Homo sapiens: one gene and its partner. The protein of the gene in region 1 interacts with the protein of each later gene in a pairwise test. Each region holds a gene or a part of one and is shown on either strand. Other genes may lie near its edges. The genes, in order: MARCO and SCGB3A1.

Evidence for each region.
Region 2: the proteins of MARCO (region 1) and SCGB3A1 come close enough for resonance energy transfer, tested with the Homo sapiens proteins (one study listed by BioGRID).

Annotation. Positions count from the first base shown.
Region 1 is NC_000002.12:118,960,419-118,976,702, reverse strand, and holds part of MARCO (macrophage receptor MARCO), read right to left. Parts: intron 7,544-16,284; coding exon 7,442-7,543; intron 6,590-7,441; coding exon 6,365-6,589; intron 5,205-6,364; coding exon 5,169-5,204; intron 2,371-5,168; coding exon 2,263-2,370; intron 2,183-2,262; coding exon 2,138-2,182; intron 1-2,137. UniProt on the Homo sapiens protein: Pattern recognition receptor (PRR) which binds Gram-positive and Gram-negative bacteria. Also plays a role in binding of unopsonized particles by alveolar macrophages. Binds to the secretoglobin SCGB3A2.
Region 2 is NC_000005.10:180,589,530-180,604,532, forward strand, and holds SCGB3A1 (secretoglobin family 3A member 1 precursor), read right to left. Parts: upstream 1,971-15,003; 5' UTR 1,934-1,970; coding exon 1,882-1,933; intron 1,310-1,881; coding exon 1,071-1,309; intron 726-1,070; coding exon 702-725; 3' UTR 576-701; downstream 1-575. Other genes in the region: FLT4 (vascular endothelial growth factor receptor 3), read right to left, coding at 13,663-13,861. UniProt on the Homo sapiens protein: Secreted cytokine-like protein. Inhibits cell growth in vitro.

The DNA of each region.
Region 1 (16,284 bases):
CATCTGTAAAATGGGGCTGCTAATGACTACCTGTCCTCAGCAGATGCATAATTAGTGTTCTAAGACAAAATTGGAATTGAGAAACGGTGATTCCCACCCACATGGCCCAGGTATCCAAGGCTAGCATATGGAGTACAGACTGGAGGTGCTGGGTGTTCCTGGGGCAGGGGCAGGGGCAGGGAGGGATCTGTTGAGGAGAGAAATGGTGAGACTATGAGGGGAAATTGAGGGATCCAGGAGGCAAAGTGGAAAAGGATGGGAAGGAGAGGAGTGAGAGGAGGTGGGTGTATATAGAGAGGCTCTAAGTGAGTTGCTGAATTACACAAGCTTTTCCTGAGGATGCCAGTGGGGCCCAAGCAGAAAGTGCAGATGGGCTCTGGACTCCACACTCTCTATGGAACCACAACAGCCTACTTTGTGGATCTGTTTCATGTATGTGGGTTCCAGATGATTTGGGCTGAAAAAGGGGTTGCCTGGTTTTAGTGCTAGTGGTTGCACAGTCCTGCTCTGAGCCCTCTGTCAAGGCTGTGTGATGTGCCTACCTGTCAGAGTCCTAAAGAGAAGGGGAGGCTCCAGCTCTATTCCTTCTTGAAGGAAATGACTGTGCTCCTCAGGCTTCTGGCTTTTCCCTTCAAGCCAGCCTCAGTGGCTCCACTCTGGTGAGTTTCAGTCACCTAGCCTGAGTCCCTCTCTCTCGGAGGAAAGAGGATGGAGGGAGACCCACTCCCCTCTGAGTGAGCCTGCTCTGCTCAAGCCCCCACAGGCTGAGTGTGAGTGTGTGTGCATGGGGGGTGCGAATGTCTGCAAATGTGTGTGAGCATATGCATATGTGCACAAGTGTGATTGTACTTGTGCAAGTGTAAGAATGCAAATATGTACATAGATGTGTGCTCAGACACGGGTGTGCATGAGTATATGCGTGTATGTGAGTGCATATATGTGCATGAGTATATGTGTGTATGTGAGTGCATGTGTGTGCATGAGTGTGATTACATTGGTGCGTGAGTGAGTGTGAGAATGCAAGTATGTGCACAGATGTGCCCTCAGACATGAGTGTGAGTGTGTGTGGTGTGAATGCATGTGCACACCTCTGACTGCACCATAAACCTTCCTTCTTCTGGTCTGCCTATCCTCCCCGCTTAAACCCTCCTCAGAAAACCCCCTGCTGGACACAGATCAATAGGCTCTTTGGGGTCCCTTCTATTAAATTCCTTCCCAAAATCAATTTCTGGAGGATTCTACCTCCTAACAAGTTTCCTTTCTTGTAACTGGTGGTGTTTTCTTTCTGCCTCAGCAGCCTGGCGGCTTAGAGACCTGCTTTGTTTACTCCCCACTCCCTTGTAAATCCTCTCATCTGCCCTTTGTCTAGTAAAGGTCTTAATGTCTTCGCATCTTCACATCCCAGCAGCCTCAACCCCTTGCGGAATTTGCAAGTTGGAGTTTCTAAATTAAGGGTGGATGGGAGCAGAGTGGAATGGAAAACTGATGTTTGGGTTTGTCCCTGGGGAGGGACAGCTCTGGGCCCCCCATTCTCTGACCGGGCCCCGTGAACCCATTTATATTAATAAGATGGCTGGGCAGAATTAGGCAACAGTCTAAAAAAATGGAAACTAATACTTTCCAAGCAACGATCATGAGCTTTGTGTCATTGTCTCTAATCCCCCTGGCAGCCCTCTGCAGCCCTCTCATCCCCAATCACAGAAAAAGAAACTGAGGCTCGGTTTCTTTGGGAACATCAGGAAACATTCCCAAGGGCACAGAGCTAGTCCAAGGTGGAGGTGCATGTGCCTGACACCAGAGTCCTTGTTGGACCAAGGAGGCCAACTTTCCAAAGTGGCACTGGCAGACTTACATTCTCACACAGAGGAGGGGGTAGGAGTCACACCCCCCAGCCCCATCTAGGATGAAGGCCATCTAGCCATACCTGCCCCTGAGGGCGGCTGCCCAGCCCTACTCTGGCCACCAGAAAGGGTGCTTCCCAGCCTCTCATCCCCTCTGGGGTCTCCCACCAGGCCTCCGTTCACCTACAGACCCCTCAGAGGTCCAGACTCTGGAGGGAGGCTGCGTCTGCAGCCCACAGCAGTCACTCTGAGAAACTTGCTGTGTATTTCTGGGTACATACCCAGCACCTACTCACCCGCCTCTCCCTTGACTCCCGGTGGGCCTTGGGGTCCCGAGGGGCCTGGAAGGGAAAGGGAATTCAGAGTGAAGCCAGAGAAGGAGGAGGAAAATGATTAAGGGTCAGAAGAAAAAGACCCGTACCTGTTGCTCCATCTCGTCCCATAGCCCCCTTGGCTCCCTTCTCAGCAGGTGGTCCCGGCGGGCCAGGGGCACCAGGCATGCCCATGGCCCCCTTGTGACCTTGAAGACCTGAGGAAGAGGAACAGAGACACTAATGAGTCAGTCAACAGGATGGGGCAACAACGCCATGCAATCACTTACATGGTGATTCATTCAACAAACGTTCACTGAGCATGGGGATGAGCCAACTGTGTGGAAAGAAGGAAAGAAGACAGAGCTCCTCCTGCAAGAAACCCATGGCCTAGAAAGCAAAAGAGAGACACTGAGTCACAGTCCTAGGAGCAGGTGTTAGCACTGCCCCTTTAGCTGGGTGACCTTGTGCAAGTTACATCATCATTTTGAGCCTCAGCTCCCTCATCAGTAAGATGGAATTAGTGTACTAATTACACAGGGATGTCCTGAGATTACCACGTGGGGACCATCATGGAAAACACACAAGGCAAGCTCACAGGAAGGCTCACAAGGGCAGGGCCTTGTCTGTCTTCTTCATGTCTGGATCCCCAGTGCCTATGCGACTTCTCATCCTCATGGAACTTTCAATAGGTATTTGTTGGGAGGAAGGAAAGAAGTCCAGGATGGATAGGGGAGAGAAACAGAGAGGCAAGTGGGTTTCGCAATCCCCTTCCCTGAAGCTTGGCTGAGGAGCAGTTCCCCTGACTGTGTTCCAGGCAGCCTGCGTGGGAAGGCAGTTCCACCGGCAGGCTGCCTCCAGTGAGACCATGACTTCTGGGTTCCACACCCAGCCCTCCTCCCCCACCCACCTATTTGTCTCTGGAGCCTTTTCAACAAAGGAACCTCTGGGAAGTCTTGACCAGGCAAGGCAAGCCATGGGGAAGGGGAGAGAACACAGCCTCCCTGGGTGGGAAAGGGTGATGGGCGGGGAATCTGGAGAGGCAGGTGGTGTCCGAGGAGGAGCCGAGACTTCTATAGCCCCAGCTGCTGGAAGAAGTTTCCTGTCTCTGGTTTCTGGGCACAAAAAGAAAGAGTGGGAAGAGACAGAGAGAGAGAGAGAGAGACAGAAGTCAGAGACAGAGAGAGACTGAGAAAGACATGGAGAGTGAGAGTTGGAGATTTTCTCTATGTACATACATCTATATTCAGAGAGAGAGAGAGGGAGACATGGAGAGAGATAGTTGGAGTTTTTCTCTATGTACATACATCTATATTCAGAGAGACAGAGAGAGAGACATGGAGAGAGAGAGTTGGAGTTTTTCTCTGTGTACATACATCTATATTCAGAGAGACAGAGAGAGAGACATGGAGAGAGTCGGAGTTTTTCTCTATGTACATACATCTATATTCAGAGAGACAGAGAGAGAGACATGGAGAGAGAGAGTTGGAGTTTTTCTCTATGTACATACATCTATATTCAGAGAGACAGAGAGAGAGACATGGAGAGAGAGAGTTGGAGTTTTCCTCTATGTACGCACATCTATATTCATACAGAGAGAGAGAGAGCCATAGAAGCCATGTTCTGTGCTCTGGGGTGAGGTGGGCAGCACTGTGCCTAGGGCGGGTGACAGGCAGATTTTGAAGGTTGTACTGAACCCATTGGGTTGAGAAGAAGTTTAAGCATTGATTCTGTCAGCAAAAGCAATTGAAATTGTTGAAACTGCCCCTCCTTAAAGGAGAGGAGCCAGCATTCATCAGGCTGGAGGCTCTCCTAGCAGCAGCATTTAGTTTTCTCAAGAATAACAGAATAACAACCATATATAACAATAGCAAATAATAGTCATAATAATAACGAAGACAAGAACATCATTGAGTACTTGCTCTTTGCTGGACACTGGACTAAGAGGTGTACATTTATTGTTTTATCCTGACACCAATCCTAGGAAGTCCTACCATATCTCCATCTTACGGGGGAGGACATAGAGCTCAGAAATGTTAGGTGACTTACTCAAGGCCACCCAGTTTACAGGGGCAGATCCAGGATTTTCTGTAGGCCCACCAGTCTCCCAAGTCCCTGCTTCCATCACTTTGCAAGGCTGCCTCAAAACCCTCCCTGGCCAATGGTGTGATCTGGGCCATCCTTGAAATATTATGGGACCAAAGGATTCTGTCCCAAAAATGGCATGTATATTTATCCTCAGGGGGAAATTTCAACCACTCAGCAGATGAAATGGAACAGGGCTGTGAGTGAAGCGTGTGTGTAACACAACACATGTGGGTTGAGGCAGGAAGAAAAGGCAAACAACCATAGCCTTGTCCTCAGAGAGCACATGCCATTGTCAGACAGCTTTTGCACTCCCTTGAGTCCTACAGCAACTCTGTGAGGCGAGTCGATTATCTCCACTGCTTCCTACACAGGTGAGTGGCTGGGGCTCCAGAAAACTTAAGTAACTGACCCAGAGTCACACCGCCAGTAAGCCCCAGGCCCAGGATTAGAACTCAGATCGGCCTGACCGCACAGCCTGCGCCTCCATGACACCTGCCTCCCATCATTACTGCCCTGTAGGAGAGAGGAGTGAGACACCATGGAAATGAGCACAGCACCTCTGGTGGGAAGTGCTATGTATGTGGTAGGTAAGAGTCACCTGGAAGGAATGCTTACAGGAAACCAGGAGAGAGGCTGCCCTGGCAGCCAGATGATGCCTGGTCTGGCCTGGGAAGGTAGCTAGATTTGGATGGGGGAGTGGAGAGAGGAAGCCTCTTTAAGTAAGGAGGGGGATGACAGCCCAGGGTCTGGGAGTCCAGTTAAGTTCTGGGAACAGAGAGGAGACCCAACTGAAGACAAAGGAGGCTGTGGAGACAGGGGAAGGTAAGCTAGGGTCAGCTGTCCAGACCCAGAATGGCACAGGCCAAGGGGCCCTTTTGGGGAGGTTTTGGGGAAAGAGCAGGGTGGGTGTGAGTGGAAATGAACCTACCTGGGGCGCCTTGTTCACCTTTGATTCTGAACATCCCTGCAAGGGAAGGAGAGTGAGCTGCAGCTGAGCTGTGGGGTACCCTTGGCCCAAGCCCCAACTGAGAGTGCCCAGGTTCTGCAGTGGGAGGGTAAGCCCTCCTGTGTGGGGCTCCCATCAGACTGTGGGGGTTTGGACAACAGGAGCCAAGCACCTGGCTGTTTTTTGGGAAAGAGTCCTTGGAAAGAGCCAGATGCTCAGCTGCAACTAGCGGACTGCACCCCGAGACCTGTAGATCCCTGGGAGTCTTGGAGGTGGGGAAAGGAGGTTGCTTCAAACCAGCCTGAGGAGGTAGAACCCCTTCGTATTGGTCAAAATGAGCTCCTTCACATTTCAAGGAAGGAAGAGACACTCCCATGGTGTCTGTGTCTGAACGTGGACTCCTTCCATCTGCCCACAGCTATCGCCCCTCCTCACACCCCCACTCAGCCTTCGTCTTTTCTCCCTGGGGAGGCCACAGCCTCTGGAGGGATTGGCCTCCTGGGTCCCGTGCTGGGCGTACCCCTTGGTCACAGGACCTAGCCATGGGATCACCCTCCTAAGCCTCAGCTCACACAGGGCCCAGAGCAAGGAACCCTGCTGGGGCTGGAGCTCTGTGTCACGGGGTAAACCCTACAACAGTTGAGCCACACCTAGCAGCTGGTTTTGCTGAAACTGTCTGAGGGCGAGGCTCTTCCCATTTTGGGGCAGGCTGAGAGAGGAGAGGGTGCAGCTGCAAGGCCCTGAGAGCACCGAGGGAAGGGGCACCCTTGGGGTTTTAACCCTTGGCTCAATTTTCCCCAGCCTGCAGCCCTACCACCCAAGTCACCACCTTTCCCCCAGCAGGTCCGGGTGTCCTCCTCCCCACAAAGTCCCCACATTGTCTGAACTAGTTTGGTGCCTTCAGTTGCTCTCTCCCCAACCTCATGTCAGTGTAAGTCAGCTGTGGGGGAGTGGTCCAGGGAACCGCCCCAGGCTCTGTGTTTTACCCTCCCTCCCAGACATTCTGGATCCATGTGGGGACTCTGGGTTCAGACTTGGCATTGAGCTGGTTGCTCTAAGTCCCTGGCTCTTGGAGGTCACACTTTGCTTGGACAGGGTCCTTAATTTCCTGGTTCCTGATCCCGCTGTCTCCCAGACCTCTGTTGAGAAGTCCTGACCCAGAGGGGAGGAGGCCAAACCTGGGTTCTGAGTGAAGTTGTCTACCCGCTGCAGCAAGTGCTCATGGCTGACGCGGACCCAGGTGAGTTGGGCCTGCAGGACTTGCAGCCTCGATGCACCCTGAGCCAGGTGTTCTCCAGGGTGTGCTGACTGCAGCAAGGAGAAGGACGGGCTGTCCTCAGCCGCCAGAGTGTCATTGAGGAAATACATCTCCAGGACCCGGAGCCGCGCCTGCAGATTCAGAACTGGGCCCCACCCCACAGCATTCTTTTAGGGACTGAGGCATTTGAGCATATCCCTGACATTCTTGTGTCATGTGTGCATAACTTCTACAGGCCCTGAATTTGTAAACACAAATTCCATGTGCTGTCAGGACCTAGCGTGAGCACACGGCCTTTTCTACATCTTGACCATGTGCGCTCCACACTCAGGCATGATATTGCACGTCCACAAAACATTTCTGCGTGGCCTAAAGCTGTGCCTACTGCATCCACAATCAATCTCCAACCTTCAGGCAGTTAAGACCTTCCTGCATGCTCTGGGTGTAGATGCATGACAGCTAACATGCTGGTCTGACCTAAATATGTGCAAGCAGCATTCGTGTGTGATCTTAATACACACAAGACGTGTTTATGACAACTGCTCATTCAGCGTTCTTGAGTGACTTCAGTGTCTGCTCATGGAACGACTTCATGACTTTAACCTTTAGATTGGGAATACTTCAAAAGTAAAATCATGTTCAAATGGACACTTGGATCAGCAAAGCCCTTCCCACTCAGAGGCTGGGAGTCTTAGATGTCAGAAGTGTGTGTCATCCCCCGTGTGAAATTATGATGTCTTTCACTGCTTAGACACATAGGCTCACAAGAGCATTCTCAATGTCTCTCTCTCTCCCTCCCTCAGGCACACATACACACAACATACACTCCTTCTTTGCTCCTCTCATCACTGTGGCTGCCAGGGGCTGAGACTGTCTCCCAGCAGATGGGAGCAGTGGCCCGAGGCTCTCCACTCAACCTGAGCCCTTCATCTGAGGGGCCCAGCTGGGTCACCCCTCTCCCCCCAGGAGGGACTACACAGGACCAAGCCTGCTTTACCTTGGACCACCAGCAGCCCAGCGCCAGCGGTGAGCAGGATCAGGTAGATGACCACCACAGCTAGGGAGAAGTTCACCCCATTTCTCCTCTTGGGCTTTGGAACTGAAACACAAGCCAGGAGGAAGGAGGCTGCTGCAGAGAACACAGCACAGGAAGTCCCTGCCTGCTCCAGGCCCTACTCCATGTGAGCAGGGGGCACCCTGTGAGGTCAGCTGGGAAAGACACCAAAAGCTCATGACTCCCAAATCATCCCCCAATCCTCTTTCTTGCCACAAAGCAAAAATTGCCACTGTTGGTCACTCATCTGTGTGGCTGGGCAAATAAACATCTGTGCCATATATCATTTGCTGGAAAAGGTGTCATATCAACCTTGTTCACTGGTGAAGCCCCAGCATGGTGCCTGGCCCTGTTGGGTTCTCAATCTCTGTTTGTGGAATAAATTATGAATTAATGTGTTTAAATTTCAAAACTCTGGGAGGAGGAGGGTTGTTCCCATTTGGCAAACAAGTAGTGAGACTTGGAGAAATTAAATAACTTATTAGGTTATAAGAAGCAGATCTGGAATTCATGTCTAGGTCTTTTTTTTCCTTAAGATTTGTAAATTATAAAAGTAAAACATGCTTGATATATTTTATCAAATAATGTACAGGGCATGACAAGGGTTAATAATCATCCCTCAACCCCCTAAGGTCCTAACCCGATGAGATAATCTCTATTAGCACTCTGGGGTGTGGTCTTCCTCCCATCCCTCCTGTCCAGAAATCCTACAAACCCATATAGTCTGAGAAAGCCTTTTTTTCTTTTAATCTTACAAATGATATCATAGTACATAAAATACCACACATTGCTTTTCACAGTGAAAGATTTTCGTGGACATTTTCCTAGTTTTCTTTGTAGAGAGAGATTAGCTGCCTAATACTCCTTAGAGACAAAAGCCACAGTTCATGCTAACATTTCCCTTTTAATGAGCTGTTTCCAGTTTGCGACATTACAAAAGAGGCTGTAATATTTCTTGCCTGGAAGTCCTGACTCTAGTCTTTCGTCAGCTGTTACTCTGTCTTGTTTAGGGGTATTAAAGGGAGGGCCCCAGACTGCAGAAGGCCCTGCAGTTCCTACTGCTCACATTAAATGAGCACCTATTCCACACCAGGCATTTACCAACATCATCTCTAACCATTGCAGCAACCCTGCAAGGTAGGCATGGTTACACTCCTTTACAGAGGAGAGAGCTGGGGTTAAAAAGTTAAGGTGGCAGGTGACACAGCAGGCATATGACCCCAGGTTGGTCTAGCTTCAAGGCCTGAGCTTGCCTCACTAGCCTGCACTGACCACTGCCCCTAGGAAAGATCCAGTTGAAATGGGCCCCAAGGGCACATCTGAAAGGGAAACAGACAATAATGAAGGAGCCCAAGGGAATGTGTGCCCAACCATGTTTGCTTTTGTGATAGGGGCAGGTGGGTTTTAACTATTGTGACAGATGCACTTAAACCTCAGATCTTTTCCTATCACCTGCAGCTCCTGTGTTTACCCTGCTGATATTCCTTCCAACCCCCGCACAGCAGGGACCCCTGCTTGAGAAATGCCCAGATGAACAATGGTCTAGGGGTAGCTCTGGCAGCACAGAGAGGAGTGGTTTTGTTGGTGGGTTGGTTGTTTAGCTAGTGGTACTCGATTATACTCAGTTTAGCATGGAGTGCCCCGTCTCCTCTGCACCCTACCCCCCAGAATCCAGGCTCACACAGCAGCCTGAGTGAGCCCCACAACACATAACCTGCCCAAGTCATTCCCTGCTCTCAGCCCTTCAGTGGGGGCTCACTGCTCCCAACCTGGCACCTGAAGCCCGTCTGGCCAGCTCTCCTATGGCTGCAGTTCCATGTCACACCTCCACATGGATCCTGACCAATGGCCAGGCCAGATGACAACTGGTGGCATTCTTCTGACTTGGGGCAATGTGTGTCCCCTGAATACTGGCTCTCCTCCTTCCCTTTCACAAGACTAATTTCTGCTCATCCTTCGGAAGTTCAGTAGAGCCCGTCCTGCTTCAGGACACCTTCTCTGGTTCCTCTGGGCTGGGTGGAACCCCCCTTGGCTCTCCCACATCACTCTGTTTCTCTCTGCCATAGCACTGATCACCCTGGATTGTGTTTTTGTCTCTGTCTCCCCAAATGGCCTGGAAGCTCTTTGAGCTGTATTCCAGCACCAACGTGGTATCTGGCACACAACATGCTGGGAAGATGATGACTGAATAGATGAATGAATGAGTGGCTACAGAGGTTTGGGTGCTGAACATGTGCAGAGTTAGAAGTGTTGAAAGAACATCAGGAATGCAACTCAGGGCCTCAGGTATTCATGCAACCGTCATGATGAAGACAAATAACACACGAGGGGAGCCTCACATTTAACACGAGGTGGTGGATGGCAAATTGGCAAATACAGTGTCATGGACAGCACTGTTTTTGGACAGCACTAAATTTTATGAAACAAACATCATGGGAATGGAAAGGTAAATTGTGCTTCAGAGACACAGGTATTACAGAAGTCAGAGGCTGGAGCAAGCATGGAAAATACAGATATTTTGAAACCATATGGTCAGAGCGTGGTGGAAGGCATGTGAGTAAGGATACAATGAGAAAAAATAAGGTATGGTAATACTGTGACAGTAGTTCATGGATAGCCATCCAGGCCCAGAATGCTTTTTAAATTCAGAGCTACCACCTGGCATAGAGGCAAAGTATTTTAGAAACTGGGAATGTTGAGCCTGTAGACCTATATAACTCATTCTGTACAAAATGGAGGGTCTGATGAAGTCTTTAGCCTCTACACTGTTCATTTCATCTCTTAGAGGGTAGAAGAAACTATAAAGAAAACACCTATTCTGGATCAGGTTTGACCAAAGAGGAAGAGCTGCTTGACATGAGAGGATAAAAACAGCTGCTAGTAAATAAAAATGGGCTTCCCTGGAGTAAACCTTGATGAGTATGGGCAAAGATTTTAGGCAAGCAGGTTTCAGAAATTTGACAGCTCTATTGTCTGGCCCACAATGAAAACATAGCTCAGGAGGGAAATAAAAATAATTTTTCAAGTCTGTAAAAGATCCCAGTGAAGAAAAAAAGCCTGCACACAAATTCTAGTCTTTCCAGGTCTGCCACCTCCTGGGGTAGCAGGCAGTGCTGGTAGGGTGTCCTCCTCCAGGTCTGCCACCTCCTGGGGTAGCAGGCAGTGCTGGTAGGGTGTCCTCCTCCCGTGCTATAACACTAGTGGACATTGAGCAGGTGTCCTCACTCTACCCTAGCACTGGGCTGCCTGGTGAGCAGACCCAGAGAAGTAATGTCTTCCCTTTGGGCCTGATGTATCTCACTTCCTACCTGATAGCACCAGGCAGTACTGGAACGTGCCTTCTGCCTTGCAGGAAGGACCAGCAGGGGACCAGCAAGAACTAATGGCACCAGGTAAACAAAGTGGATCAAAATAACGTGGACAGGGCTCTGAAAACTAAATTGTCATTGTACCATAGCCCACACAAGTAGGCCAGAACCTACATAATAAACCTAAACTGTGTGACTCTGTGACTGTCTACTAAAATAGAAGTTTTAAATAGGACTCAGAATCTCCTAACATACTATACAAAACATCCATTATATAATGGAAAATCACCCATCATACAAAGAATAGAGAAAATCACAACTCAGATGAGAGGAGACAATCAAGAGATACCAGCATTGAGATGACACAGATGTTAAAACTATTCCACAAGAATTTTAAAGCAGCTGTAACAAAATGCCTTAGTGAGCAATTAAAACTATTCTTGAAACAAATTTTTTAAAAGCTCACCAAAATAGTACAACATATAAAAAAAGAACCAAATGGAAACTATAGAACTAAAAAAATACCAATGAAAGAAAAAAGACTTGGTAGATGAGCTGAATAGTGTAATAGATGTGACAGAGGAAAGAATCAGTTAACTCGATGATAGAACAATAGAAATTACACGTCTGAAAAACAGAAAATCAGCTGGGAAAACAAACAAACACACATGAACAGAGCCTCAGAGACCTGTGGGCCAGTAACAAAACACCTACAATTCATATCATTTAATTCCTAGAAAAAGTGTGAGGCTTAAAAAATATTCAAAGAAATAATGGCTAAAAATTTCCCTAATTTCGTGGAAGATCTAAACCTACAGATTAAAGAAACTGCCAAAATCGCAAACATGATAAACTCAAAGAAATCCATATCAAGACACATCATAACTAAAACATTGAAAACATAAAAAGGCAGAGAAAATTAAACATCTAAGGAAAAAGGAAAAATCTAGAAAGCAGCCAGAGACAAATGGCACATTACTTATAAAGGAATACTTTTTTTTTTTTTTTTGAGATGGTATCTCACTCTGTCGCCCAGGCTGGAGTGTACTGGCATGATCTCTGCTCGCTTCAACCTCCATCTCCTGGGTTCAGGTGATTCTTGTGCCTCAGCCTCCCAAGTAGTTGTGATTACAGGTGCACGCCACCATGCCCGGCTAATTTTTATATTTTTAGTAGAGACAGGGTTTCACTATGATGTCCAGGCTGGTCTTGAATTCCTGACCTCAAGAGATCCGCCCACCTCAGCCTCCCAAAATGCTGGGATTACAGGCATGAGCCACTGTGCCTGGCCAGGAATACCAATTTGAATGACAGAAAGTTTCTCATCAGAAACTATGGAGAACAGATGTAAGTGGTACAGCTTATTTTGTGTTCTGAAAAAGAAGAATTGTCAACCAGGAATTATATTGCCAATAAAAATACACTGTGGGAATGGACAAGAAATAAAGACACTCTCAGAGGAAGAGAAATGAAGAGAATCTTTTACTGGCAGAACTAACTTTAAAGAATGACTAGAGGAGGTTCCCCTAACAGAAAGGAAATGATATAGTAAACTAGAATTTCAAAAAAGAAAGAGAATAATAGAACAAGTAAAAATAGGGATATATACTACAGCATCCTTCTCCTCATGAGTTTTAAAAATCACATTTGATTTTTAACACAAAAATTATACCACCTGATGTGGTGTTCAGTGAATGTAATAGAAAATGACAATTATATTTAAAAAGTGGAGAAGGCTAAAGAACATAAATGAAAGTAAGATTTCTACACTTGACTCAAAATGGTAAAATGTTGATATGTTCTGTATGTATATTGCAATAGCCAGGCTGCGATAAGTTCCATATGTATATTGCAATAAGTAGAGAAACCATTAAGAAAACTATTCAATAAAAAACACTATAAATAAATCAAAATGGAATTCTAAAAATTATTCAAATAATCCACAGGAAGGCAAGAAAAGAGAAATACATGAATGGGAAACAAAGAAAAAACAGAAAACACACAATAAGATGGCCAATTTAAGCACTGACATATCAATAATTACTTTCGGTATAAATGGTCTAAATCAGAGGACGGATATTGCCAAACTGTATTAAAAAACATAATCCAACAATGTGCTATAAATAAGAAATCAAACAATAGAACTTCAAAATACATGAAGCAAAAACTGATTTAACTGAAAAAAGAAATAGACAATACACAATTATAGTTGAGACTTTAACACGTAGTTTCAGCAATTGATAGAAACTCTGCAAAGTTACAGAAGAACTAAACACTAGCACTACTGACTGATAGTATCTAATGAACACACAGAATACTCCAGGTAGCAACAGCAGAATGTACATCCTTTTCAAGGACACATGGAACATACACCAAAATAGATGATATCCTAGGTCATAAAACAAATTTCAACCAAATGAAAAAAAACCAAGGTCATACAGAATACCTTATTTGCCAATAATACAATAAAAATAAAAATCAACAATGGATAGGCAACAGGAAAATCTCCAAACATTTGGAACATTTAAAAAAGGACTTCTATATAATGCATGGGTCATTAAGAAAGCATCAAAAAAATTTTAAAAATACAAATGAAAGGAAATGAAAATACAATATATTAAAATTTATGGGATAAAAAAAAGCAGCTCTGAAAAGAAAATTTATAGCACGAACTGCTTACACCAAAAATAAAAAAGGCCTCCAATCAACACACTAAGTTTTTTCCTCAAGAAATTAGAAAAGAACAAAATAACTCCTAATCACCAGAAAAGGAAATAATAAAGATAAGAATATAAATAAATAAAATTTAAAATAGGAAGATAGAGAAAAATCAATGAAACAAAAGCTAGCTCTTTGAACAAAGTCAATAAAATTGGCAAATCTCTAGCAAGACTGAACAAAAATAAAAATGAAAGAAGACACGGATAGCCAATATCAGAAATGAAACAGGTGCTATCACTACAGATCCTGCAGCCATTAAAAAGAAAATAAGAAAATACTATCACTAACTTTATGCTCACAATTTAAAGGAAATAGGCTAGTTCCTGAAAAGCCACAAACTACCAAAACTCAGCCAAGGTGAAATAGATAATCTGAATATCTATAATCATTAAATAAATCTAAATTTTAATTTAAAAGCTCCCAGAAAAGAAATATTCAGGCCCAGATAGTTTTACCAGCATATCGTAATAAACATTTAAAGAAGAGTTAGCATCAGTTTTACACAATCTCTTACAGAAAAGGAAGAAACACTTTCTAATTCATTTTATGAGATCAGAATGATCCTAATATGAAAATCAAAGATAGTCCAGTAAAAAGAAAGAAAGAAACAAACAAAACTATTTCATGAACTTTGACACAAAAATCTTCAGTAAAAGGCAAGCAGAGAACAAAATTGTGAATGAACTTCCATTCACAATTGCTACAGAGAATAAAATACCTAGGAATACAGTTAATAGAGGACGTGAAGGACCTCTTCAAGGAGAACTACAAACTGCTGCTCAAGGAAATCAGAGAGGACGTGAACAAATGGAAAAACATTTCATACTCATAAATAGGAAGAATCAACATCATGAAAATGACCATACTGCCCAAAGTAATTTATAGATTCAACACATTTCCCATTAAACTACCACTGACATTCTTCACAGAATTAGAAGAAACTATCTCAAAATTATACAGAACCAAAAAAGAGCTTGTATATCCAAGAAAATCCTAAGCAAAAAGAACAGAGCTGGAGGCATCACACTACCAGACTTCAAACTATTCTACAAGTCTACAGTAACCAAAACAGCATAGTACTGGTACAAAAACAGACACATAGACTAATGGAACAGAATAGACAACTCAGCAATAAGACCGCACGTCTACGAGCATCTGATCTTCAACAAACCTGACAAAAACAAGCAATGGGGAAAGGATCTCCTATTCAATAAATGGTTCTGGGAAAACTGGCTAGCCATATGCAGAAAACTGAAACTGGATCCCTTTCTTACATCTTATACAAAAATTAACTCAAGATGGATTAAAGACTTAAATGTAAAACCCAAAACTATAAAAACCCTGGAAGAAAATCTAGGCAATACCATTCAGGACATAGGCATGGGCAAAGATTTCATGAGGAAATTGCCAAAAGCAACTGCAACAAAAGCAAAAATTGACAAATGGGATCTAATTAAACTAAAGAGCTTTTGCACAGCAAAAGACACTATCATCAGAGTGAACAGGCAACCTACAGAGTGAGAGAAAATTTTTTGCGATCTATCCATCTGACAAAGGTCTAATATTCAGAATCTGCAAGGAACTTGAACAAATTTACAAGAAAAAAAAACAACCTCATTAAAAAGTGAATAAGGGACATGAACAGACACTTCTCAAAAGAAGACATTCATGTAGCCAACATACGCAAGAAAAGAAAGTTCAACATCACTGATCATTAGAGAAATGAAAATCAAAACCACAATGAGATACCATCTCACATCAGTCAGAATGGGGATTATTAAAAAGTCAAGAAACAGCAGATGCTGGTGAGGTTCCAGAGAAATAGGAACACTTTTACACTGTTGGTGGGAATGTAAATTAGTTCAACCATTGTGGAAGACAGTGTGGTGTTTCCTCAAAGATCTAGAACCAGAAATACCATTTGACCCAGCAATCCTATTACAAACCATTCTATTATAAAGATATATGGCACATGTATGTTCATTGCAGCACTCTTCACAATAACAAAGACATGGAATCAACCCAAACGTCCATCAATGATAGACTGGATAAAGAAAATGTGGTACATTTACTCCAGGGAATACTGTGCAGCCATGAAAAGGAATGAGATCGTGTCCTTTGCAGTGACATGGATGGAGCTGGAAGCCATTATCCTCAGAAAACTAATGTAGGAACAGAAAACCAAACACTGCATGTTCTCACTTATATGTGGGAGCTGAACAATGAGAACACGTGGACACAAGGAGGGGAACAACACACACTGGGGCCAGTCAGGGGGTGGGGGTATAGGGAGAGCATTAGGAATAATAGCTCATGCATTCTGAGCTTAATATCTAGGTGATGGGTTGACGGGTGCAGCAAACCACCATGGCATACATTTACCTGTGTAACAAACCTGCACATTCTGCACATGTACTCTGGAACTTAAAATAGAAATAAAAATTTCAAAAAAAACTTGCATAAAAAAGTTAGTAAATAATATCAAGCAATATATTTAAAAAATTATATGCCACAACAAAGTGGGATTTATTCCAGATATGCAAGGATGGTTCAATGTTTTAAACTTAATCAATATATTCCACCAGATCAGCAAGCTAAAGAAGAAAAACCATAAAATTAGTGCAGAAAAAGCACTTGCCAAAATCCAATTCATAGTAAAACTCTCATCATTATAATTCAAAACTATGACTCATAACAAATAATAAACTCACAATAAAAATTCTTAGCAAACTAGAAATAGAGGAGAACTTCCTCAAC
Region 2 (15,003 bases), on another chromosome or scaffold:
GCAAGGAAGTCAACTGGGAGGCTTCCCCTGAAAGGGACACCGATGTCTGGGTTCCCTGGGCACCTTCCCACCAACACTAGATCAGTTGACAAAAGGTGGTCTCTCCGCTAGAGTAGAAGGAATCAAAGTCACTAGGTTATTTGGACAAAACCAGCAGAAACTGCAGGGAAAACAAGCCCAACAGCGGATTTCCTGAAGCCCTCATTCCTCCCCCATTCCGAGGAAGAAATCTACAAGTATAGAGGGAAAAAATAAAAACTTTCAAATTTTAGCAACAAATGGCTTTGGTGCGTTTGCATTCTCGCCAGTCTTCAAGGAGTAGATAATTTTTATGCTTCATAAACAGTTACAGAGCACAACAGGAAGAAAGACCTGCCAGTTTTGTTTCCAAATCCGGTTTACCTCTGATACTGGCCCCATCTCTGTCACCTTGCACTGCTGGCTCTATGCCACCTGCAGACTCTCGCGGCCTCTCTCTCCCTCTCTCACGCAGCACCCCTCACAAAATCTGGGACTTGGCACTCTCGGTCCCCCACAGGGATCAGCATTTGGATGAGAAAATACCAGGCTCGAGCTGCTCTTAACCACGTTTATTGAGAGGGGCCGGGGGAAGGGGATGGACGGTCCTCCCCGCGGCGGGGTTTTCAGCCCTCGCGGGTGGGCAGCGTCTTGTCCTCAGGTGTAGATGCTCCAGTCTCGGCTCAGCCAAACACTGTCAGGGCCCCCTGGAAAGCAGAAGCCGAGCTTGAGTGCCCCCAGCCCTGCCACCAAGAACTCAGGCGGGGGCGCGGCAGCGGCCGGCTCTGTGGGGAGCGGGAGCGGGGCGGTTCCGCTGGCGTCTCCGGGGGACGCGCACCCGCGCGGGGCCATCTCCGCCTTCCCCGCCCCTGCAGCTCGGATGCGCCCCACCCAGTTCCCACCCGGAGACCCGGGCTTCTCCCAGGGACAGGGCTTGGAGGGGCAGGACGGGAAACAGCCCTGACGTAGGGCCGGGACACCTCTGGTGCAGTTTTGAGGCTGGCCGGGAAGGGATGCCCGCGCAGGAAGGGCACCCGGGGTGCCCACTTTACCAGCAGGGCCTTCAGGGCCTTCACGGCCCCCACGGCCTGGGGACCCAGCTCAGCCACACACTTCTGGGAGCCCTCTATGAGGTGGTTCACGGGGATGCCCAGGCTGCTCAGCAGGAGCTTCAGCGGGTTGAGGGTGCCGAGGGGGTTGGCCAGGGTCCCGGCCCCGGCCTCCGCCGCCGACTCCAGCGCAGCGACAGGCTGGGCCACAGGCTTGGCCGAGCCCACTAAGAAAGCAGCAGCTGCAAGCGAACAGGGAGGGGTCACCGCCTGCGCGCCGGGGTCCCCAGAAGGCAGGTCCAGGACGCGCCCCCGCGGGAGGCGCCCAGGAACCGTCGCGCCCTGCCCGGCTCCCCGACCGCCCCTCCCTCCTGCGCCGAGGCCTGCCAGGTGCGAGCCCCCGGGACACAGGCGGGTCTGGGGAGGCGGCCCCGCCAGGAGACGCTGCAGGGTCACCGGAGTGGCCTGAGGGTGGCGGAAGGACCGGTGAACTCTGTGCAGGGTCCGGGACAGGCCCCCAAGGGAGGGGACACTCGCGCTGCGCCTTGCAGGATGAGGAGCCGGTCTCCAGACGGGGGGCAGACGGGTGTCCCCAGGCCAGGGGCGGCCTCCATCCCGGCACGAGGCTGGAGACAGCCCTGAGAGGGGGAGGCCGCGGGCTGCAGGCGCGGGGCCCCGGGGTGGCGGAGCCCTCTGGGCGCCGGGCGAGGCTGGAAGGACCTGGGATCCACGATCGGCGCAGGCAGCGGCGGGGGCGCAGCGGGCGCCGAGGCCTCAGGCCCCACCGTGCGCGCCAGGAGCCCGGGGCGCTCACCGGAGCTGCAGGACAGGGCCACGCAGAGCCCCAGGAGGGCGGCGAGCTTCATGGCGCGGGGGCTCGGGGCGCGCGGGGAACCTGCGGCTGCCCGGGCAAGGCCACGAGGCTTCTTATACCCGGTCCTCGCCCCTCCAGCGCCGGCCTCGCCCGCGCTCCTGAGAAAGCCCTGCCCGCTCCGCTCACGGCCGTGCCCTGGCCAACTTCCTGCTGCGGCCGGCGGGCCCTGGGAAGCCCGTGCCCCCTTCCCTGCCCGGGCCTCGAGGACTTCCTCTTGGCAGGCGCTGGGGCCCTCTGAGAGCAGGCAGGCCCGGCCTTTGTCTCCGCGAGGCCCACCCCGGCCCGCACCTTCGCTTTGCGGTCTGACCCCACGCGCCCCCCTGCAGGGCTGGGCCCGGGTGAGGGGAGCTTCCCTCGCGCCAGGGCAGGGGCGGGGGCGGCGCAGTTCCTGGCTCCCTGGTCCCTGCCTCTGATCCCAGACCGTGGCAACGTCGGGCACTGGGGGTCCTCGTGGGCGCCTTCTGCGCCTGGGGAGGTGGAGGCGCCAGGGACGATCAGGCCTCACTCCCGGCCGCCTCCCCGGCCGGGCCACAGGCAGCCACAGTGCAAACAGAAGTGGGGCGTTTTTCTGTCTTCGAAACTAGCCTCGACGCCAGTGGATGGGCCTGGTTTGTTCCTGAGTTTCTCTAAATGTCCTCACTCGTCTGTCACCTGCAGAAGTATGACAGATGGAGAGCAAAGCACATTTTGAAAACTTTTGCAAATGATACATAAACTAATTTGCTTTTAGTCCTTCTTCTTTCCTCTATTTTTTGACCCCAGGCATTGAGCACTGAGTGACTCACGTTTTGCTGCGTGGCTGCTCTCAGCTAGGTTGGTGCAAAGTCTCTCTTTTCTTTTGTAAAGTGTAGCTGGCACGCGTGGGAAACAGGCTCCCGGGTGGGAGGACCTGACTCTTCAGGCAGTGTCCTGGAATTCCTTCCCTATGGCTGACAGCACGTCTTAGCCCTCAGCCACCCCGAGCTACTGCGGCCTCCTCCGCACCTGCAGACACTTGTGCCTTTGCCAACTGTTGTGGCCAGGCACACGCATTCACACTGTTTCTGTTCACTTACACTTTTCCTTGACTATTTTGTTTGGGGGATTTTTGCATTATAAATCTGGAGTTTGGTTGTGTTTTGTTGGTCATCATGGAAGTAATTTTAATGGGAAATACGTTTTCTTTTTTAAAAACAGTTTGAAGTTAATTACTTTTTTGGTGGTGGTAAAGACACTGTCTTGCCGTGTTGCCCAGGCTGGTCTCGAACTCCTGAGCTCAAGCAATCCTCCCACCTCAGACTCCCAAGTAGCTGGGACTAGAGGTGTGAGCCACCACACTCAGCGGATTTTGATTTTGTTTTTTGTTTGTTTGTTTTTTGAGACAGTCTCACTCTGTCGCCCAGGCTGGAGTGTAGTGAGGTGATCTTGGTTCACTGCAGCCTCCACCTCCCAGGCTCAAGCAATTCTCCCACCTCAGCCTCCCAAGCAGGTGGGGCTATAGGTGTGCACCACTATGTCCAGCTAATTTTGTTTATTTTTTGTAGAGACAAAGTCTCACTGTGTTGCCCAGACTGGTCTTGAACTCTTAGCCTCAAGTGATACTCTTGCCTCAGCCTCCCAAAGTGCTGGGATTACAGGTGTGAGCCACCACGCCTGGCTTGATTTATTTTTATTTTTTCTAGAGATGGGGTCTCGCTACATTGACCAAGCTGGTCTCAAAATCCTGGCCTGAAGCAATCCTCCCGCCTCAGACTCCCAAGGTGCTGTGATGACACGTGTGAGCCACCCCGCACAGCCCAGCTTCACCATCTTAAGGGCACACTCCATTAGCATTAAGTATATTCTAATGTTGTGCAAACATCACCACAATCCATTTCCAGAACTCTTTTCCTCTTATAAAACTGAAACTCTGAGCCTATTAAACAACTCCCCACTCCCCTCCCCAAGCCCTTGGCACCACCATTCCACTTTCTGTCTCTGAATCTGGCCACTCCCGGCACCTCATATGAGTGGAATCGGGCAGTGTTTGTCTTTTGTGTCTGGCGTATTTCACTTAGCATGATATCCTCCAGGTTCATTCATGACCTTCAGAGTTTCCTTCCTTCTTAGGGTAGGATACTGCTCCATTGCATGGCTGTGCCACGTTTTCTTCACCCATTCACTTCACCCGTGGGTGGACATGTGGGCGCTTGCATGTTTTCACTGCTGTGAGTAATGCGGCCGTGAACACGGCTGTGCAAATGCCTCTTTGGGACCCTGCTGTTGGCTGTTTTGGGTGGCTGCTCAGAGGTAGAATGGCTGGAGCCTGTGGAACTTGCCTGTGTCATTTGTGAGGATCTGCCATCTCTCCCATAGCAGCGGCACCACGCTGCCTTCCCAGCAACAATGCACAAGGATCCCAGTGTGTCCACAACCTCATGATGCTTGTTCTTCTCCTGAGCAGGATCTGGCAGCCTTGGCCCAAGCAATCCCAGTGGGCGCATCTTGGGAGCTGACTTTGGGGCCACCTTTCCCCATGCTGCCTGGGGACCAGAGAACACTGACCGCGGGAAAGACCGATGCTGCCGAGGCCAGGAGGAGGGGGAGGCCGTCATCTGTGGGTCCCCAGCAGCGCTTGGGGTCCTGGCCACTCCAGCGGCCCCTTGCACCTGCCTCCAGGGATCCTTTGTCTTCAAAATAACCTCCCTCCACCTTCCGGCTCATAGTGCCTTGGGTGGATCTGTTCCCATTTCCCACAAGCCTGCAGGGTGGTGACAGGCCCTCATTCCCATGTGCCCCAAGATTTCGGATTCCAAAAATACATCCCCTGGCTCCCCGGAGAAGTGTGTCACGGTGTCTCCGTTTCACCACTGACAGGGCCAAAGGATGTGCTCTCCTCTCCCGAGCTGCCATGGTCAAGGCAAGCCAGGACTCACCTCAGGCTGGCCCAGCCCCTCACCCCACACTGGCTCTGGGGGCCACGGCTGGCGAAGCCTCTGCGGTAGTTGGGGATCAGGCAGGCCGAGGGTCTGGCCTGTGCCGAGACCTGCACAGCTGGGTCAGCGGCTGCCTCTGTATTCATTTCCTGAGGCTGCTGTGACAAGTCACCACATACCTGGTGGCTGAAAACAACACATTTACTCCGCTCGCAGTTCTGGAGCCCAGAAGTGCAGTGTCACGGGGGTGAAGGCGAGGCGTCGGGGGCCGCTCCTCCTCCAGAGGCTGGGCCTTCCCAGGAGCTTATCCACTCCTGGCCTCTCCCTGCTTATGGGGGCTGCCAGGGCCCCTTGGCTGGTGACTGCATCACTCCAGTCTCTGCCTCCTGGTCACATGGCCTCCTCCTCTTCTGTGTGTGTGGGTGTGTGTGTGAGGGTGCGTGGGGTGTGTGTGTGAGGGTTTGTCGGTGTGTGGGTGTGTGTGGGTGTGTGGGTGTGTGTGGGGGTGTGTGTGGGTGTGTGAGGGTTCGTGTGTGGGTGTGTGGGAGTGAGAGGGTATGGGTGTGTGTGAGGGTGTGTGAGGGTATGTGTGGGTGTGTGAGTGTGTGTGGGGTGTGTGTGAGGGTGTGTATGTGTGGGTGTGTATGTGGGTGTGTGTGAGGGTTCATGTGTGGGTGTGTGTGGGTGTGGGGATGTGTGGGGGTGTGTGTGTGGAGGGGTGAGAGTGAATATGCATGCAAGTGTGTAAGATGGACAGTGAATGAGAATGTGCATGTGAAGGAGAGTGAGTGGGTGTGAGCTTGTGGGTGTGTTTGAGTGTGAATGTGTGTACAAGTGTGTGTGTGGATAAGCGTGAGTCAGTCTGTGTGGGAGGGAGAGTGTGGGAGGGAGTGTGTGGGAGGGAGTGTGTGGATATGCATGTGTTTGAATTGTGTGCAAGTGTGTGTGAATGTGTGTGTGAGTGTGGGTGTGTGTGAGTGTGAAAATTCTGCCGCCATCTTATGAGTGTGTGTGTTGTTGCATTTAGGGCTCACCTAGATAACCCAGGACAGTCCCCTCATCTCACAATGACGCCCCCAGTCGGGCTGCCGAGACCGTGCCTGCTGAGCCTAACATTCCAAGGTTCCAGGAGCTGGGGTGTGGACGGACCTGGGGCCTGCCATGCCCTCCAAGTGCTGCCCTGCCCCTTGAAGGCCAGGCCAGGTGAGGCTTCCAGGGTGGGTGTCAGAGTCCGCCCGGCATGGGACAGGGGCGGGTGGGCAGCGCCCTCTCGTCAGCCTGGGCCTTCCCTGCCACTCCTGCTTGCGGCCCTTGCTGGCTCAGGTCTGCCGAGACACTGAGAAAGTGCTTGGCGCTGTCTGCAGACGACACGGTCAGCTTGTTCTGGGCAGTGTTTGCAGGGCATCTTTTGGGCCAAAATAAACACGCACACCTTGCCCACTCCCACGGAATGCAGGAAGAGCTGGAAGGTAAACAAGCACTTTGCGGCTCTGGGGAAGGGGCCAGATATTGAATTTGGGGCCTATTGAAAGACCTCAGGGCCTCGGAGCAGGGTACTCAGCCCCTGGGTGCTCCTGCTGGGGAGCCTAGAGGCTCACGGTGCCTCCGCCCGGCCCACGCTTTGGCGGTGCTTCCGCAGACACCTGTGGAGGGCTGTTCAGGTGGCAGATGCCCACTCTGATGCCCCCACCATGTCCCCATTCTCTCTCTGATGTCCTCTCTCTCTGAGGCCCCTGCTCTCTGTGATGCCCCCTCTCTTTGATATCCCTCTTTCTCTGGTGCCCTCTCTTCCTAATGCCTTGAGTACATAAATTATTAAGCAAACTGGGTTGAACTCCGGATACCCATGCCTCTCTGATGTGGTCACCTGGGCAGGTGAGTGCAGCTCCCCGCCAGAGCAGGCATCTTGGTGACTGTTCATTGCCGGAGTTTTCTGGGGCCCCTCTCTGCCCACCTCTGCTCTCCTGGGATAGCAGCTGGCTGTCAGGTGGTGTCCTGGTGGCTGGGCCCTGGTTAGGTTAGCCCTCCATGCTAGAATGATCTGGGGCTTTGGGAGGGGTCTGTGGTGCTGTTCCAATAGAAGCTGCTCTTCTTTTTATGTCTAGAGCCAAAGGCCGCAGGCGCTGGACCCCGGCCCCGAGGCCCCCTTCCTCACTCCTTCTGAGCAAACTTTCCTACTCGAAGGTGGGGACCGGTGGGCAGCCCTGGTGGTGTCAGCCGGCACCCTGAGTTTCCCGATGGTCCTGGGACCCTTTTTCAAGGGACTTGTGGGGGCTCCTGGCCAGGGCCACCACAGCGGCCAGCAGCAGCGACCCTCCACACCGCCCTGAGTGGGCCCCACAAGGACAGGCACCTCGGCCAGTCCCAGCAGGCACTCTGGGCTTTCTCCTGCGCCAGTAGGAAGTGGTTTGGCTCGGCCCCGTGGGCCCTGGGGCGCTCAGCACCCCCTCCTCAGCCCCCGTCCTCCCTCCTCATGGCTCGGCCCCGTGGGCCCTGGGGCGCTCAGCACCCCCTCCTCAGCCCGCGTCCTCTTTCCTCATAGCTCAGCCCCGTGGGCCCTCGGGCACTGGGCAGTGTCGTGAGCATATCCGAGCGCCCTCTGTGGCACCGTCCCTGGGTCAATATTGATCTGGCTCTCAGCCACTTCCTTTTGCCCCTTCCCTGTCGGCACTCCCACCCACAGGGCCCTGCTGTGCGGAGGGGAGCAGGTGCTGTCGATGTGGTTCCTGCCTTGTGGGTTCAGGGCATTGGTGAAAGTGACAGAAAAGCTGACCCACGTGGCTTTAAGCAAAGACTGAAATTCCAGGAGTGGCTCCGCCTTCAGGGAAAGGTTGATCCAGGCTCAAAGGATGTCACCAGGACCTCATACCTCATTCTTCCCTGCCATCTCTCAGCTCCTTTTTTTTTTTTTGAGATGGAGTCTTGCTCTGTTGCCCAAGGTGGAGTGCAGTGGTGCAATCTCGGCTCACTGCAACCTCTGACCCCAAGTTCAAGCGATTCTCCTGCCTCAGCCTTCTGAGTAGCTGGGATTACAGGCGCCCGACACCATGCCCGCCTAATTTTTGTATTTTCAGTACAGCCAGGGTTTCATCGTGTTAGCCAGGATGGTCTCGATCTCCTGACCTCGTGATCTGCCTGCCTCGGCCTCCCAAAGTGCTGGGATTACAGGCGTGAGCCACCGCGCCCGGCCTCTCAGCTCCCATTTTTTAGAGTTGTCCTCCTTGGAGTGACAGGCTGGCAGCCAGCAGTGCCAAACCTCCGATACCAATTTGGGCCCAGGCACACAAGCGCTGGTGCTATCCCCAGGGCCCTCCCGTGAGGCTTCACCCCACTGCTCCAAGGACCGTGCTGGCCACAGCAGCAGCAGCAGAGGAAACATCGTGTCTCATTAGGTCCCACTTCCCTGCTTCAGTCTGTTCAGTGAGGAAGGAGGCTGAGGAAGGGGTGCTGGCAGGGATTCAGGAGGTGACCCTGGGCAGGGCTCCACACCTCTGTGTGCCCAGCAGCACTCCCTGTCCTCCCCACCCCAATACCATTCCATTGAGGAAAGCACTTCAGTCCCCAGAGCCCCACCGTGTCCAGGGACTGAAGTGGTTTCCTGCGTGGAATGGCACTGGGGTGAGACGGGCATTATCACCCTCACGATTTAGAAGAAACACAGCTCAGAGAACGTCAGTGACCGGCCTGCAGTCCCCTGGCAGTCTGAGATGGGTCTGCACGGTGCCCAGGCCATGCTCTTCACACGCCCATTGACCCGGAAGGCACAGCGTCCTGTGCTGCCTCCACGTGCCAGGGCTGGGAGCAGCCAGGCAGGGGTGAGAGTTGGGGGGTCAGACCCAGGGGAGGCCCCAGCCCAGACTCCAGGCCAAGATCCCACCATGGCAGAGATGCACTTGCTGCCGTCCCAAAGCAAGGCCCCTTCCGAGCGTTCCCTTCCGTTACTGCTGCCTCTCCGTGGAGACTGGCTGATGACTTCCAGGTACCCGGCTGTCCCTAGGGGAGGCCATGTCCTTCTCAGGGGAGCTGCCTCCTTCCAGGGCCGGGCAGTCCTGTGTGGCCCTGCTGCCCACAAGCCAGCTGTGATGGAGCTCCTGGCAGTGCCTCAGAGCAGCCAGGGATGGGCGGGACCCTGGGAGCTGCCCGGCTGACTCCACCCCTGTGTGCCACAGAGGGGCAGCCCAGGCTGCCAAGGATGCTGCCCCCAGGCGTGTTCCAAATCCCTTAATCCTCTCTCTCTGTGGCCGCTCTGGGCTCCCCATCAAGCCCTAGTTCAGCCCCCACATCCTCTAGCCTCCCGGCCCACCATCAGCTTTATGGCACCCTTGGCCACTCGTGGCTCGGGTGGAAAGTTTAGGAGTTTCTGCTTCCCTCTTTGGATGCGCCCCTGAGGGGAAGGTGGTGTCCCCCACTGGGCCCAGGAAGGGGAAACGGTCCCCTCTCCTCGCGGTGGTGGCTGCAGCCAGTTACTCCTCCAGAGCAGAACAAGGGTGGGGGGAGTGTGGGGGCGCTTGCTGACCTCAGACACCGCCCAGTTTGCCCTCAGGAGGGATGCATTTCCCCTGTGCACAGCGCTTTGAGGCTGGGCTCACATTTCTTTCTTACAGTCCTGGAAGCTGGGAAGGCCAAGATCAAGGCGCAGGCAGATCGGGGGTCTGGTGAGGGGCTTCCTGGTTTCCTGACAGCTGACTTCTCACACGGTGGAAAGAGGGCTACGGAGCTCTCTGGCCTCCTCTTGTAAGGACACTAATCCCATTCCCAGGGGCTCCACCCTCATGACCTGCTCACCTCCCAAGGGCCCCACCTCCTAACGCCATCACACTGGGAGTAGGGTTTCAACATGTACATTTCAGGAGGACACAAACCTTCAGTCCATCGGGCATATGGGGGACGGGTGGGAGCACGTGTTAGCTGGTGCATGGGTGGGTGGGTGAGTCAAGGGGGGCTCATAGGCCCCTGTTCACACCACTTGGTCGGAAGGGGGCTTTTACCTGGGTGTGGTCACCCCCAGCACCACTGGGGCCTTATGACTTTTATCACCAAAGCTCTACAAGGTGGCAGTCATGAATGAGAAACTGAGGCTCCGAGGGGAGGTGCTGGGCTCAGGCTCACCAGCTGCAGGGTGCCACATCTCATACCCCATCCTCCGCTCCCAGCCCTGAGGAGCCCTCAGAGCCCAGCCTGTCCCAGGCTCTCTGCCCAGTGGCAGAGGAGACCCAGGCCTCATTTGGTGGTTGCCAAAGGCACAAAGGCAGTCCCCGCTCAGTGATGCTATGGTCCCCTCCCTGAATCCACATGCAGAGATCAGGGCTGGAGATGGCCCCAGTGACCTGGGGACTGGCCAGCACCTTGGACACTGTGGCTGATTATCTGGGCTAAGCACACAGCTTCAAGAGTCTACCTGGAAGCTAGGCACAGTGAGCCCCGTAGTCCCAGCTACTCAGGAGGCCGAGGCGAGAGGATCATGTGAGCACGGGAGGTTGAGGCTGCAGTGAGCTATGATTGCACCACTGCACTCCAGCCTGGGTGACAGAGTGAAACTTCGTCTCAAAAAAAAAAAAAAGTTGATTTGGGCCCACTGGGGTGGAGTGGCCTGGGAGTGGTAATGGGGTGAGGATGGGGTCAGGGGAAATGAGAGGGAGGGAGCCGGTGTTGGTGCTGGAAGCTGCTTTTTGGGTTCCCTCCTCCCAAGCATAATGAGCATCTAGGGCGGGAGCTGTGTAGGGCCCTCCCGGGGGTCCCTCTGATCTCCTAGCCTGCCAGCACCCCTGCAGACCCCGCCAAGCTCCTTCAAGATCCCTCCTTCTCGGTGAAAGACGTCAGCCCTTCTCAGAATGCCCGTCTAGCCTTAAAATAAGAAACAGGCCCAACTCTGGACTCCCAGGCCCTAGGTCCCCTGTGGCCTCCTGTCCCACATCCCACTTCCCTCCCTCGCCTGTCCTTCTGGTCTTCCTCTTTGCTCTTCTTCACTCCTCACAGCAGGGGCTGCGGTTTGTGAGTTCCAACTCCAGGGCCTAGGACCACGTGTGGCTTTGAGCAGCCACCCGGGAGCTCTGCCTGCTGGATGCAAACGCCAGGGCCTGAGCACACCGAGAGGCACTGGGGACGTCAGCATAGAATCAACAGCATCAAAGGACATTCGGGCATGTCCTGGGCCCCAAACCTCCCCCAAGCAGGTGACGAAGGGCTCTTGGCAGAAATGAATAGAGTGAAGGGCTGGGGTGGAGGTGGGGAGGCATAGGCGGGCGGTGGCACCCAGAGAAGGGCTGGAGCCTGAGAGGAGAAGGTGAGAAGGTTCTTGGGAGGCAGAAGGGACCAAGGGGCCCTCGCAGTGCGAGCACGCTGTAGCCTGGTGTGACTCCTCCCTCCCCGCTCGCTGGCTGTCTCCATCCACACAGCCACTCCTGGAGTGAGTGGTGCTCTGGGGTGTGAAAGGGTGGCTGGGACCTGCAGGGACACTTGAGCCCAGCCCTTAAGGTCCAACCCAGGAAGTTCCAGAGGAGCCCGGAAGTGTGAGCGCAGCCCTGCTGGGAAATGGTACGGGATGGGAGCACAGAGGTGTTTCAGTTCCCAACACACAGGGGCATACTTTGGGCTTGGAGAGCCGCTCAGCCCTGGGCACGGGGGGACACCCTGTTGGTGGACACCTGGGTTGGCACATATGTCAAGGTCAGTGACTAAATTCAGTCAATTATAATGGAAAGCTAAAATATCCAAACCCAGCCTGGGCAATACAGTGAGACCTCATTTCTACAAACCAACCAACCAACCAAAACAAAAAAAAAGCGGCCGGGCGCGGTGGCTCACACCTGTAATTCCAGCACTTTTGGGAGGCTGAGGCCGGGAGTTCGAGCCCAGCCTGGCCAACATGGTGAAACCCCGTCTCTACTAAAAATACAAAAATTAGCTGGGCGTGGTGGCAGGTGCCTGTAATCCCAGCTACTCAGGAGGCTGAGGCAGAAGAATTGCTTGAAGACGGAGGTTCCAGTGAGCCGAGATCGCGCCACTGAACTCCAGCCTGGGGGAAAGAGCAAAACTGTCTCAAAAAAAAAAAAAAAAAAAAAAAAAAGCCCAATGTGGGGGCTGTTCTGTATTCCCATTTAGATTTATTACGGAAGCAAAAACAATAAAAGCAACACTCCCGTCCGCAACACACACAAAGACCGGCATCAGATTTATTATTATCTCTTGTTAAATATTTTCGATCTTTTCTCAGAACATGGTCTAGAAGGGCATAGTAGTTTTTTTCCCGGTACATGCGTGGGTGGGTAGTGAGGAGAAGGGAGCAGAGGTGCGCGCCAGGAGCCAGGCTGGTTCTCTGCAGAGAACAACCTCCAGATCCTCCCAGGGAAGCCTGACACGCCAGTCCCACGTTGGACGACGTGCAGAGGAAGGGGGAGGTCCACGGGGACGACGAAGATGACCTTATACGTGCACTCGGCATATCCTGGAGTAACGCGCAGTGGGGGAGGTGGGGAGGGGAGGGTCGGCCGGGCAAGCCCCTGCCCGCTGCGCGGCGCCTGTCCTGCAAGCGTCTGGTGCGTGGGTTTGGGGGGTCAGGGTGGTGGTCAGTCTCCGTGGTCCTAACGTGGGGATGTGGCTCTTTCTCCTGGTGAGATGGTTGGGCACTGTGAGCTGGGATAGGGGTCCTGAGCAGAATGCCTCCAGCCTTCAGGGGATCTCTCGGCTGCTCCTCTGGGAGGGCGGCATTCTGACCAGCCAGGGTGCTGATGTCAGGCACAGGGCAGGAAAAGGCTGAAGGCAGGTCCCCAGAATGTCCACTGAGTGCTGGGTGGCACAGGGCAATGCTGGGTGGTCCTTTGTGCCAGCCCCGAGCCTTCCTGAGTGGATCCCACAGTGTTCATCTCTCATGAGCTGGTTCACGGCTTGGGAGGGGCCGCAGGTGGCAGATCCGGGCTCTAAAGGGAAGAACCAGACCGGCAGCTCCAGACCCAGGCTCCTCGGAGTCTGGGCCAGGTGGGAGAGCAAGGGCCTTCTCCAGAGGCACTGACTGCTCTGCTGGCCTTGACCTGGGGCGGGGGTCAGAGTCATCTAGACTCAGTACAGCTGTCCCTGGGCGCCTTCCAGGCTGAATTCGGAAAGCAAATTCTTCTCAGCAGCTCTAACAGTCTGTGAAGTTCTGTTGAAAAAGACTTGCAGGATGGCTCTCAACACCCAGGCGCAGGTGTGCGGGCTGCCTCTGTGTTGCCAGCGTATAATACTGTCATACTGGTGGCCACCCCAGGGGCTAGTTGGCTGTTTGGTCAGGCCCAGAAGAGGACCCTGCAAATGCCTTCTTTGAGATGGAAACACAGCCCCTCCCTTCAACTGTGCAGGGGTGGGTGAGGCCAGCCAGCCCTCGTGGGGAGAGTAGCTGTGTGCCTGAGGAGGAAAGGGCGTTTGGGAGACCTCTGCTCTCGTATGCCTTAACCTCCAACACTGTGTGACTCCCAGACCCACAGATTCCTCGTGGGAAAACAGGGACCAGGCCACCACCCAGTGTGATGAAAGGAGGTCGCCAAAGAGACATTCCCATGGAAGTGCTGGCCCCGGGACCAGCACCTGCGGATGCTGAACTAAATGACATCTGAATCTCAGGGGGAGGGGCCGGGGCAGCTGGAGCGTGGCCCTGGCCAGTCGTGGTGACGGAATTCCGGGAGCCTTGGGCCTGGAGTCCTGCTCTTCCTAGCTGGGAAGTCTGCAGAGAGGGAAGAGGACACTCCTGTGCCACCAGAGTTCAACCAGATGAGTTCCCAGCCTGGGCCTCCAGCCCTCTGCCCGCCCTGCCGGGCCTGAACCCCCAAGTGCTGGGGGTCTTGTCCGATGCTGCTTAGTAGCTGTTGTCTGTGAAGAAAGTCACGCGGGCAGACGGGGAGCAGTGGTCCTCCTCGCTTGGCTCCGACAGCTCCCCATACTCGCTGTTGTAAAACACCTGGCCTCCTCGGGCCCCCCGCTCAGGCCGCCGCCGCCTCCCTTGGGAGTCAGGGTGTGCCCTGGTCACAGCCACATTCTGGCCAGGTCCTTTACAGCTGCCAAGACAGGGAAGGTGGTGTTAGTAAGAGAAGAAGGCTGGGTGGCGGGTGGTGCATACTGGTAATCCCAGTACTTGGGAGGCCTAGGCAGGCGGATGGCTTCAGGCCAGGAGTTAGAGTCCAGCCCAGGCAACATGGGGAAACCCCGTCTCTACAAAAAATACAAAAATTAGCCAGGCATGGTGGTGCACGCCTGCGGTCCCAGCTAAGTGAAACAATTGCTTGAGGCCGGGTGCGGTGGCTCATGCCTGTAATCCCAGCACTTTGCTGGGAGACCGAGGCGGGCGGATCACGAGGTCAGGAGATCGAGACCATCCTGGCTAACACGGTGAAACCCCGTCTCTACTAAAAATACAAAACATTAGCCGGGCGTGGTGGCGGGCGCCTGTAGTCCCAGCTACTCGGGAGGCTGAGGCAGGAGAATGGCGTGAACCCGGGAGGCGGAGCTTGCAGTGAGCTGAGATCGCACCACTGCACTCCAGCCTGGGCGACAGAGTGAGACTCCATCTTAAAAAAAAAAAAAATTGCTTGAGCCCAGGAGGTGGAGGTTTCAGTGAGCCAAGATCGTGCCGCTGCACTCCAGCCTGGGTGACAAAGTGAGACCCTGTCTCAAAAACAAACTAACAAAAAACAAGGAGGGACTGGAGCCCTGTCAGGGTCTGATGGGAACCACCAAGGACACAGTGGAGCATGGCATGCGTTCAGACTTCAGAAAACACACACAGACTCGACTCAAACAGCAAAGCGGATCGATCTGATCCAGCACTCACTGGAGCTCTGTCCCTACCTAGCCTGGACCCGAGACTGTGAAGAATGTCCAACTTCATCCCCCAACCCAGTTCTCACTCTGTCTTGCCCATCTCAGTGAACGGCACCACCGTCCCCTCAGCCGCTCAAGCCAAGCACCCTGGGGTTCTCCTTGCTTCCTCCTTCCCCTCACTCTTCAAAGCCAATCCATCCAGAAGTCCTGTCCATTCTAACTCCAGGACACATCCGTGCATCTCCATTCCTGGCCCTCCTGCGGAGCCAGCTGTGTCCTTGCCGGCTCTGTGACATCCTCCCGCGGACTGCTGTGTGCTTCCACCCTGGCCTCCTGGTGGTCCACCCTTCAGAGAGGTCCTTCAAGTTACACTATGTCA